Homo sapiens: one gene and its partner. The protein of the gene in region 1 purifies or fractionates together with the protein of each later gene. This does not show direct contact. Each region holds a gene or a part of one and is shown in the gene's direction. Other genes may lie near its edges.

Region 1 (3,815 bases):
AGTTCCAGATTTTTCATCTCTCTTTTGTGTTATAAGTAACACCCAAAATGATACTGTTTCATAGGAAAAGTGTTCAAATATAGAGCCCCTGGAGGAGAGGAATTGAAAGCAATGTGTCTGTGGCAGGTGGAAGTGCTCAGAGCCTTCCTCCTGAGAACAGGGTGGCGTGGGCTCTGGAGAGGGGACCTGGATTTGGGTCCTGACTCAAGTTGGGCAAACCGCCTGCCGTTTCTGCTCATCTGTGAAATGGAGTCACGCATCCCTGCTGTGGAGGAGTTGGGTGAGGACTTGGTTGAATCAGCGATGGGTCACAGCCTGCAGAGGCACTCAAGGGTGTGCGCGGCATGGGGTGGCGATGGAGCCTGCTGGAGGAAGGGAAGGGTGGTGAGGGTCTCATTATTCTGACCGTCCTCGATATCAGGTGTCAGGAGGAGGCAGAGGTGGTACCTGTCACAGGGCGAAGGCCAGGGGGCTGCTTCCTCACCTGGCTCCTTCCCCAGGTCCCTGCTTCCCCTTCTCGGTGAGCGCGGAACTGGATGGGGTGGTCTGCCCTGCGGGCACTGCGAATAGCAAGACGGAGGCCAAACAGCAGGCAGCGCTCTCTGCCCTCTGCTACATCCGGAGTCAGCTGGAGAACCCAGGTAATGGAGGGAGGGCCAGGCAGCTGAGCCGCAGCTGGGGACAAGAGGACTGAGGCTGGCAGTCCCGTGGGGAGGCGGAAGTGGCTGTGCGTGTGAGCAGGAGGTGGGTTGCTGTACAAACCATCTGAGCATCAGGACGTCACCTGCAGGGAGCTGGGGCGGGGTACATGTGCCGGTCCCTGCTTTCACGTCCTCTGGGGACACCGGGGGTAGGGACCGCTAGAAGAGCAGCTCGTGTAATGTCCTGTGTCTGGAAGATGAAAACTTCCTCTCCCCGCCTCCTTGGCTTCCTGAGGGACGGAGGGTGGGCCTTGGCACCCACACCAGCCCGCCCTCCTTGCCTCTTTCAGAGTCCCCCCAGACCTCCAGCCGGCCTCCACTGGCCCCCCTGAGCGTAGGTAGGTGAGCATTCCCGGACCCAGGCTTGTAGTGTCGAGGGGAGAGGCGTGGGCCCCCTTCTACCTGCAGTCTCTCGCCCTGGCGCAGAGAACATCCTGACCCATGAGCAGCGCTGCGCAGCGTTGGTGAGCGCCGGCTTTGACCTCCTGTTGGACGAGCGCTCGCCATACTGGGCCTGTAAGGGGACTGTGGCTGGAGTCATCCTGGAGAGGGGTAGGGATCGCCCCAGCCCTGGCCCTGGCCCCGGCCCCCTGGGAAGGGCCCCCTCAAGCTCCTTGCCTTAGGCTGGGCCGTCTCTGCCCCCTCCTGCACAGAGATCCCGCGTGCCAGGGGCCACGTGAAGGAGATCTACAAGCTGGTGGCTCTGGGCACCGGCAGCAGCTGCTGTGCTGGCTGGCTGGAGTTCTCGGGCCAGCAGCTCCACGACTGCCATGGCCTGGTCATCGCCCGCAGGGCCCTGCTGAGGTGAGGGGCAGTGGGGTGGGCGCCTGATAGCAGCCTTCGCCAGGACAAGGTCTTCCCAACCACCCTGTGCCTGTCGCTCCTAGGTTCTTGTTCCGGCAGCTCCTGCTGGCCACACAGGGGGGCCCCAAGGGCAAGGAGCAGTCCGTGCTGGCCCCCCAGCCAGGGCCCGGACCCCCATTCACCCTCAAGCCCCGCGTCTTCCTGCACCTCTACATCAGCAACACCCCCAAGGGCGCGGCCCGTGACATCTAGTATGCAGGGCCCCCGGGGCAGGCGGGGGATGGGGCTCCCTCGGTTGGGCTGCTGGGTGGGGGCCAGGGTCAGAAGAGCAGCCCTGAAGCTGATGTCTGTCCCCACCCGGCCCGCAGCCTGCCCCCCACCTCGGAAGGTGGCCTCCCGCACAGCCCACCCATGCGCCTGCAGGCCCATGTGCTCGGGCAGCTGAAGCCTGTGTGCTACGTGGCGCCCTCGCTCTGTGACACCCACGTGGGCTGCCTGTCAGCCAGTGACAAGCTGGCACGCTGGGCCGTGCTGGGGCTGGGTGGTGCCCTGCTGGCCCACCTGGTGTCCCCACTCTACAGCACCAGCCTCATCCTGGGTGAGCACGTGGTGAGGGCTGGGGGGGTGAGAAGGGAGGGCAGGGAGGTCACTCACCTTGTCCTGTCCCTTCTGCCCTGCAGCTGACTCATGCCACGACCCTCCGACTCTGAGCAGGGCCATCCACACCCGGCCCTGCCTGGACAGTGTCCTGGGGCCATGCCTGCCACCTCCCTACGTCCGGACCGCCCTGCACCTGTTTGCAGGGCCCCCGGTGGCCCCTTCCGAACCCACCCCTGACACCTGCCGTGGCCTGAGCCTCAACTGGAGCCTGGGGGACCCTGGCATCGAGGTTGTGGATGTGGCCACCGGGCGTGTGAAGGCCAAGTGAGAAGGGCCCCCTGGGGCCGGGCTGTGGAGCAGTGCTGGTGATGGAGGGCTCATGCATGAGCTTCCTCACCTCAGTCTAATCCCAGCGCAACCCCTTCGCTCAACCCCTTCGCTCAACCCCTTCCTAGCTCCGTAGTGGTGGCCACACCTCTGTCTGCCCTGTGAGTCCTGTGACATTGTCACAGTGTGAGAGGAGGTAGTGTGAGGTGTGTAGCAGGCCTGCTGGTCCAGCTTGTATCTCTCTGATCTCAGTGGTATCCTCTCTTCATCCAGTGCCGCCCTGGGGCCTCCCTCCCGTCTCTGCAAGGCCTCCTTTCTCCGGGCCTTTCACCAGGCGGCCAGGGCTGTGGGGAAGCCCTACCTCCTGGCCTTGAAGACCTACGAGGCTGCCAAGGTTGGTTCCCCACCCTCCCCCCGTCCCGGTCCCTCTCCAGCCCTGCAGTCCCTGCCCCCTGCAGGTACCTCCTCTCACCCCACCTCTCATCTCCCGCCCTAGGCTGGGCCCTACCAGGAGGCTCGCAGGCAGCTGTCTCTCCTCCTGGACCAGCAGGGCCTGGGGGCTTGGCCCTCGAAGCCACTGGTGGGCAAATTCAGAAACTGAAGCCAGCCTCGGCGGGACCGAGGTCCCGGAGCCAAGCTGTACCCCTGCTGGGGGAGTGCCCTATCTGAGGAGCGTTGTGGGGAGAACATGGGTTGTGCGGGGTGAAACTGGGGCTGGAGGGAAGGAGGAGCCTGCTGTGGTTGGGAGGCGGCTGCTGCACGTTTGGGCTTGAATAAAGAAGTATTTCTGGTTCCTGTGTGTGTAGTTGGCTGTGTGTGTGTGTGTGTGTGTGTTTATGTGTTGGGGTGGCCAGGGGCCCTTTGTTTGCGGAGAGAGCCCCTCACTCCTCCTTTGGGAGGCCCTGTGTTCACTGGGTTCCCACCTGGATCCTCTCACTGAGCCACTGAATTGTCACCCCCGCCCCTGTTCACAGGGCTGGAGGCAGGTTTAGGAGGGGAGGTGACCTCCCCTGGTTCCTCCTGTTTTCCAGCCTGTGTGCTGGAGGAGACCACGGAGGCCACGGGTTGCGGGTGTTGTAAAGGGTGGGAGGGCAGGCTGCTTGGATGTGTGAGCATTTTGTCCTCTGGCCGCTATTGGGGCTCCAAATCCTTGCCTTTCTGGGCCCCCAGGATGTGTGGGAGGGCAGAGAACACCCTTCCCTGGTCAGAGCTTTAGCTGCCCTGGCCCTCGAGGGTGCTGTGGGGTCTGGGCAGCCCCATGTTGAAGGGCGTGGGGAGGGCATGAGCAGCATCAGTGCTTTCCCTGGGCCGCCCGGCTGTTGGACCTGGGCGAGGCATTGGACCGCTAGAGCCTGCGTCTTCCACCATGGAGAGGGACAGTGC
Region 2 (3,805 bases), on another chromosome or scaffold:
GGCAGTTAGTGGCAACCTGGACTGTTAAAGAAATGTCTCTCCATAAGCAGCTGCTGATAGCTAAGGACCTCTAGTGATTTTTGGTGACATTTGCTGAATATTATGACAATAGAAATGATTGACTTTTAGCACAAAGTGATCCATTTAATAATGATATTTTGTATGCCGTGATGATTTTAAAAGCCATGTTCCCTTTAAATGCTACATTTTAGAAATATGGTCATTTAATTATTTAGTTTTAAGAGGGTAGATTAAAGACATATCTTGGAAATCATCTAAAATGACCAGGAACACAAGAAATAGAAACATAAATCTCCAGTTTTGATGAAATGAGAAGGCATATATTTTTATACACACTTGCACACAAACGCACCCTAAATATATTAAGGTAGAAAATGAAGACGAGTTAGGAAGGCTGATGTGACAGAGTAGAGGACACTTAAATCTGCGCATCTACGAAGAAGAGTTTTGATGAGAATTAGTCGTAAGAACAACAATAAGAAAGAACGATCTCGCCCTTTTGAGCACTCACTATTGTCAAGGTCTTCTGGAACTCAGGCACTGGGGGCCTGGGTTTCAAGCAAGGGCAGGGCATTGTTGAAAATGGGAATTTGGCTGGGCACAGTGGCTCATGCCTGTAATCCCAGCACTTTGGGAGGCCGAGGCGGATGGATCACCTGAGGTCAGGAGTTTGAGACCAGCCTGGCCAATATGGTGAAACCCCGTCTCTACTAAAAATACAAAAATTAGCTGGGCGTGGTGACTCAGCATGTCTGTAAACCCAGCTACTCGAGAGGCTGAGGCAGGAGAATCACTTCATCCCGGGAGACAGAGGTTGCAATGAGCTGAGATTGCGCCACTGCACTCCAGCCTGGGCGACAGAGCGAGACTCTGTCTCAAAAAAAATGAAAGAAAATGGGGATATGTGGAAAATATCCACTAGAAGTTATAGTTCCCAAGGCCTGACCACAGGGTTTTCTGTAGAGTGATCAGATCTCAGGCTCACTTTTTGACTGCTAGGGAAAATGTATGTGTGGAAGTCTCTTTTTGGGGGTATCTGTCAGTTTTCCAGGGAAGACTTCACCAGCCTTCTGCAGGGCTGGTGGGGTGCGCATACTCCTCTGCTGGTGTCTGAGAACCAGTGTGGGGAGAGGGACAGGGTCACCCAGGTGAGTAGGAATACTTCACCTGCTTCCTGATTTTAGCCTCATGCCTCCACTTGGCCTCTGCTACGTCTGGTCCCTGACTCCTCAGCCTTTATGGGTAAAGTCTCTAGAATAAACTGCCACTCTCTGGTGAAGAGTGGCTTTGGGAGATATGATCTCTTGGGTGGGTGGGTAGGTGCTGGGAGCGGACCCAGGACCCCAACAGCCTGTTCAAACTTGCAGCCCTGCTTCTAGCTCCATGCCTTACCCCAGCCTCCCGTGGTCCCTCATGCCTGCGCATGCCAATGGGACATATAGCTTGCTTCCCCTCTGGCCCCTCCTTTGTGACTATTTCACTTCCTGCCTTTCCAAAAGTTGTTGAAATCTCATCTGCTGCTTGCTCCCTTCCCATTCTCCCATAAAAGCAATTTATGCCTTTCATAGTCTTCACTGTTGTTTTCATAGGGTTTGGGGAACGAAGCCGAGTGCGTGTGGTCAGTGCCCTGGGCTTATCTGGAATTCAGCTAGTCCTGTTGGCCCTCACTGGAGCCCTTTTGGGGTGGCTGTGCTGCCCTCCTGTGTGATCAGGGGCCTCCTCTTTCTGCTTGGTCCTTCTTGCTGCTGCTGCTGCCCCGCTGCTTCTGCAGAACCAGCTGTCTGGAGTTGGCTACTTATTGACCCATTCTTCAGGAAAGGCTCCTTCAGTTCTCAGCCTGTCTTATTTCCAGGGCATGTGGCCTGCCCAGGAGGTTTAAGAAAATCCACCCTCGGCCAGGCGCGGTCCTCATGCCTGTAATCCCAGCACTTTGGGAGGCCAAGGTGGGTGGATCACGAGGTCAGGAGTTCAAGACCAGCTGGGGCAAGATGGTGAAACCCTGTCTCTACTAAAAATACAAAAAAATTAGCCAGGCGTGGTGGCAGGCACCTGTAATCCTAGCTACTCGGGAGACTGAGGCAGAGAGAATTGCCTGAACCCAGGAGTTGGAGGTTGCAGTGAGCTGAGATTGCACCACTGCATTCGAGCCTGGGCAACAGAGCAAGACTCTGTCTCAAAAAAAAAAAAAAAAAAAAAAAGAAGAAGAAAATCCACTGTCTTTACCTGAGGCCTTAAGCTTGGTGAAAATTCTAGGTCTAAGGGGTGCCCTCAGATACCACCATTCCAGAGCAGCTGAGAACTCCAAATGGAGGGTCCCATGCTTATTCAGGGCCTGTCCTGGCCTCTGCAAGTTAGCAGGTTTTGTGTGTATCCAGGATCTCTACTTATTTCTTGGAGACCAAGCTACTTCCTTGGTCCTAGTTTATTTCTCTCTCTCTTTTTTTTTTGAGATGAAGTCTCGCCCTGTTGCCCAGGCTGCAGTGCAACGGCACGATCTTGGCTTACTGCAACCTCCACCTCCTGGGTTCAAATGATTCTCCTGCCTCAGCCTCCTGTTATTTCTCTTCTAATCGAGTCTAATCAACAATTAGCAGAAAGTCCTTGAAGTTTCCACTATCTGGCATGTGGTTGCCCTTCCTAGTAACTAGTGCTGATGCATGGTGGCACTTCTGTTTAACTGCATTGTCGGAGGAAGTGGGGTGACAGACACCTGCTGATATGGTTTGGATCTGTGTCTCCACCTAAATCTCATGTCCAGTTGTAATCCCCAGGGTTGGAGGTGGGGCCTGGTGGGAGGTGATTGGATCATGGGAGTGGATCCTTTATTAATGGTTTAGCACCATCCTCTCTGTGCCATTCTCATGATAGTGAGTGAGTTATCATGAGACCTAGTTGTTTAAAAGTGTGTAACACCTCCCCGCTCTCTTCCTTCTTCTCTGGCCATGTGAAGTGCCGGCTCCCTGTTTGCCTTCTGCCGTGATTGTAAGTTTCCTGAGGCCTCCCCAGAAGCAGAAGCTGCTATGCTTCCTGTATAGCCTGCAGAACCATGAACCAATTAAACCTCTTTTATTTATAAATTACCCAGTCTCGGTTTTTTTTTTTTTTTTTTTTTTTTGACAGAGTCTCGCTCTGTCACCCAGGCTGGAGTACAGTGGCACAATCTCAGCTTACTGCCACCTCCGCCTCCTAGGTTCAAGTGATTCTTGTGCCTCAGCCTCGTGAGTAGCTGGGACTACAAGCATGTGACTACACCTGGTAATTTCTATATTTTTAGTACAGATGGGGTTTCCCTATATTGGCCATGCTAGAGGTATTTCTTTATAGCAATGTGAGAACAGACTAATATACCTGCTCTCAAACTTACATTTTTCTTTTCGTTCCATTTTAAAAACCAGTTTTATTGAGGTACTATTTATATACAATATATTTATCAATTTTAAGTGTATAATGCAGTAAGTTTTGACAAATACATCCAGTCCTGTAACTGCCATCATAGTTACGACATAGAATATTTTCATCACCCCTGAACAATTTCCTCTTGTCCTTTTGTAGTCAAGTTTTTGCTGTAACCCCTGACTTCTGGCAGCCACTGATCTGATCTCTGTCATAGTTTTCCCATTTTCCTTAATTCAGATTATTATCAAGGGCCTGCTACTTTTTGAATTGAACTAAATAAGAAATGTACCCATCATAAGCAAAGTAGAAAAATCTAGATATAAAGTAACTCACTGATTGACTTCTTCAAGGGCCAGTGTGGCTTCTTCAGAGCTAATGAGAGCTAGCT

The links.
Region 2: the proteins of ADAD2 (region 1) and CRTAP purify together in Homo sapiens (affinity purification with mass spectrometry; one large-scale study listed by BioGRID and IntAct). This does not show direct contact.

The regions. Positions count from the first base shown.
Region 1 is NC_000016.10:84,193,942-84,197,756, forward strand, and holds the end of ADAD2 (adenosine deaminase domain-containing protein 2), read left to right. Parts: exon of another isoform or gene 1-64; coding exon of another isoform or gene 65-280; exon of another isoform or gene 281-365; intron 366-447; exon of another isoform or gene 448-500; coding exon 501-641; exon of another isoform or gene 642-784; intron 785-991; coding exon 992-1,039; intron 1,040-1,103; exon of another isoform or gene 1,104-1,127; coding exon 1,128-1,253; intron 1,254-1,319; exon of another isoform or gene 1,320-1,324; coding exon of another isoform or gene 1,325-1,354; coding exon 1,355-1,505; intron 1,506-1,588; coding exon 1,589-1,756; intron 1,757-1,873; coding exon 1,874-2,103; intron 2,104-2,185; coding exon 2,186-2,429; intron 2,430-2,705; coding exon 2,706-2,826; intron 2,827-2,928; coding exon 2,929-3,033; 3' UTR 3,034-3,225; downstream 3,226-3,815.
Region 2 is NC_000003.12:33,120,514-33,124,318, forward strand, and holds part of CRTAP (cartilage-associated protein isoform 1 precursor), read left to right. Parts: intron 1-3,805. UniProt on the Homo sapiens protein: Necessary for efficient 3-hydroxylation of fibrillar collagen prolyl residues.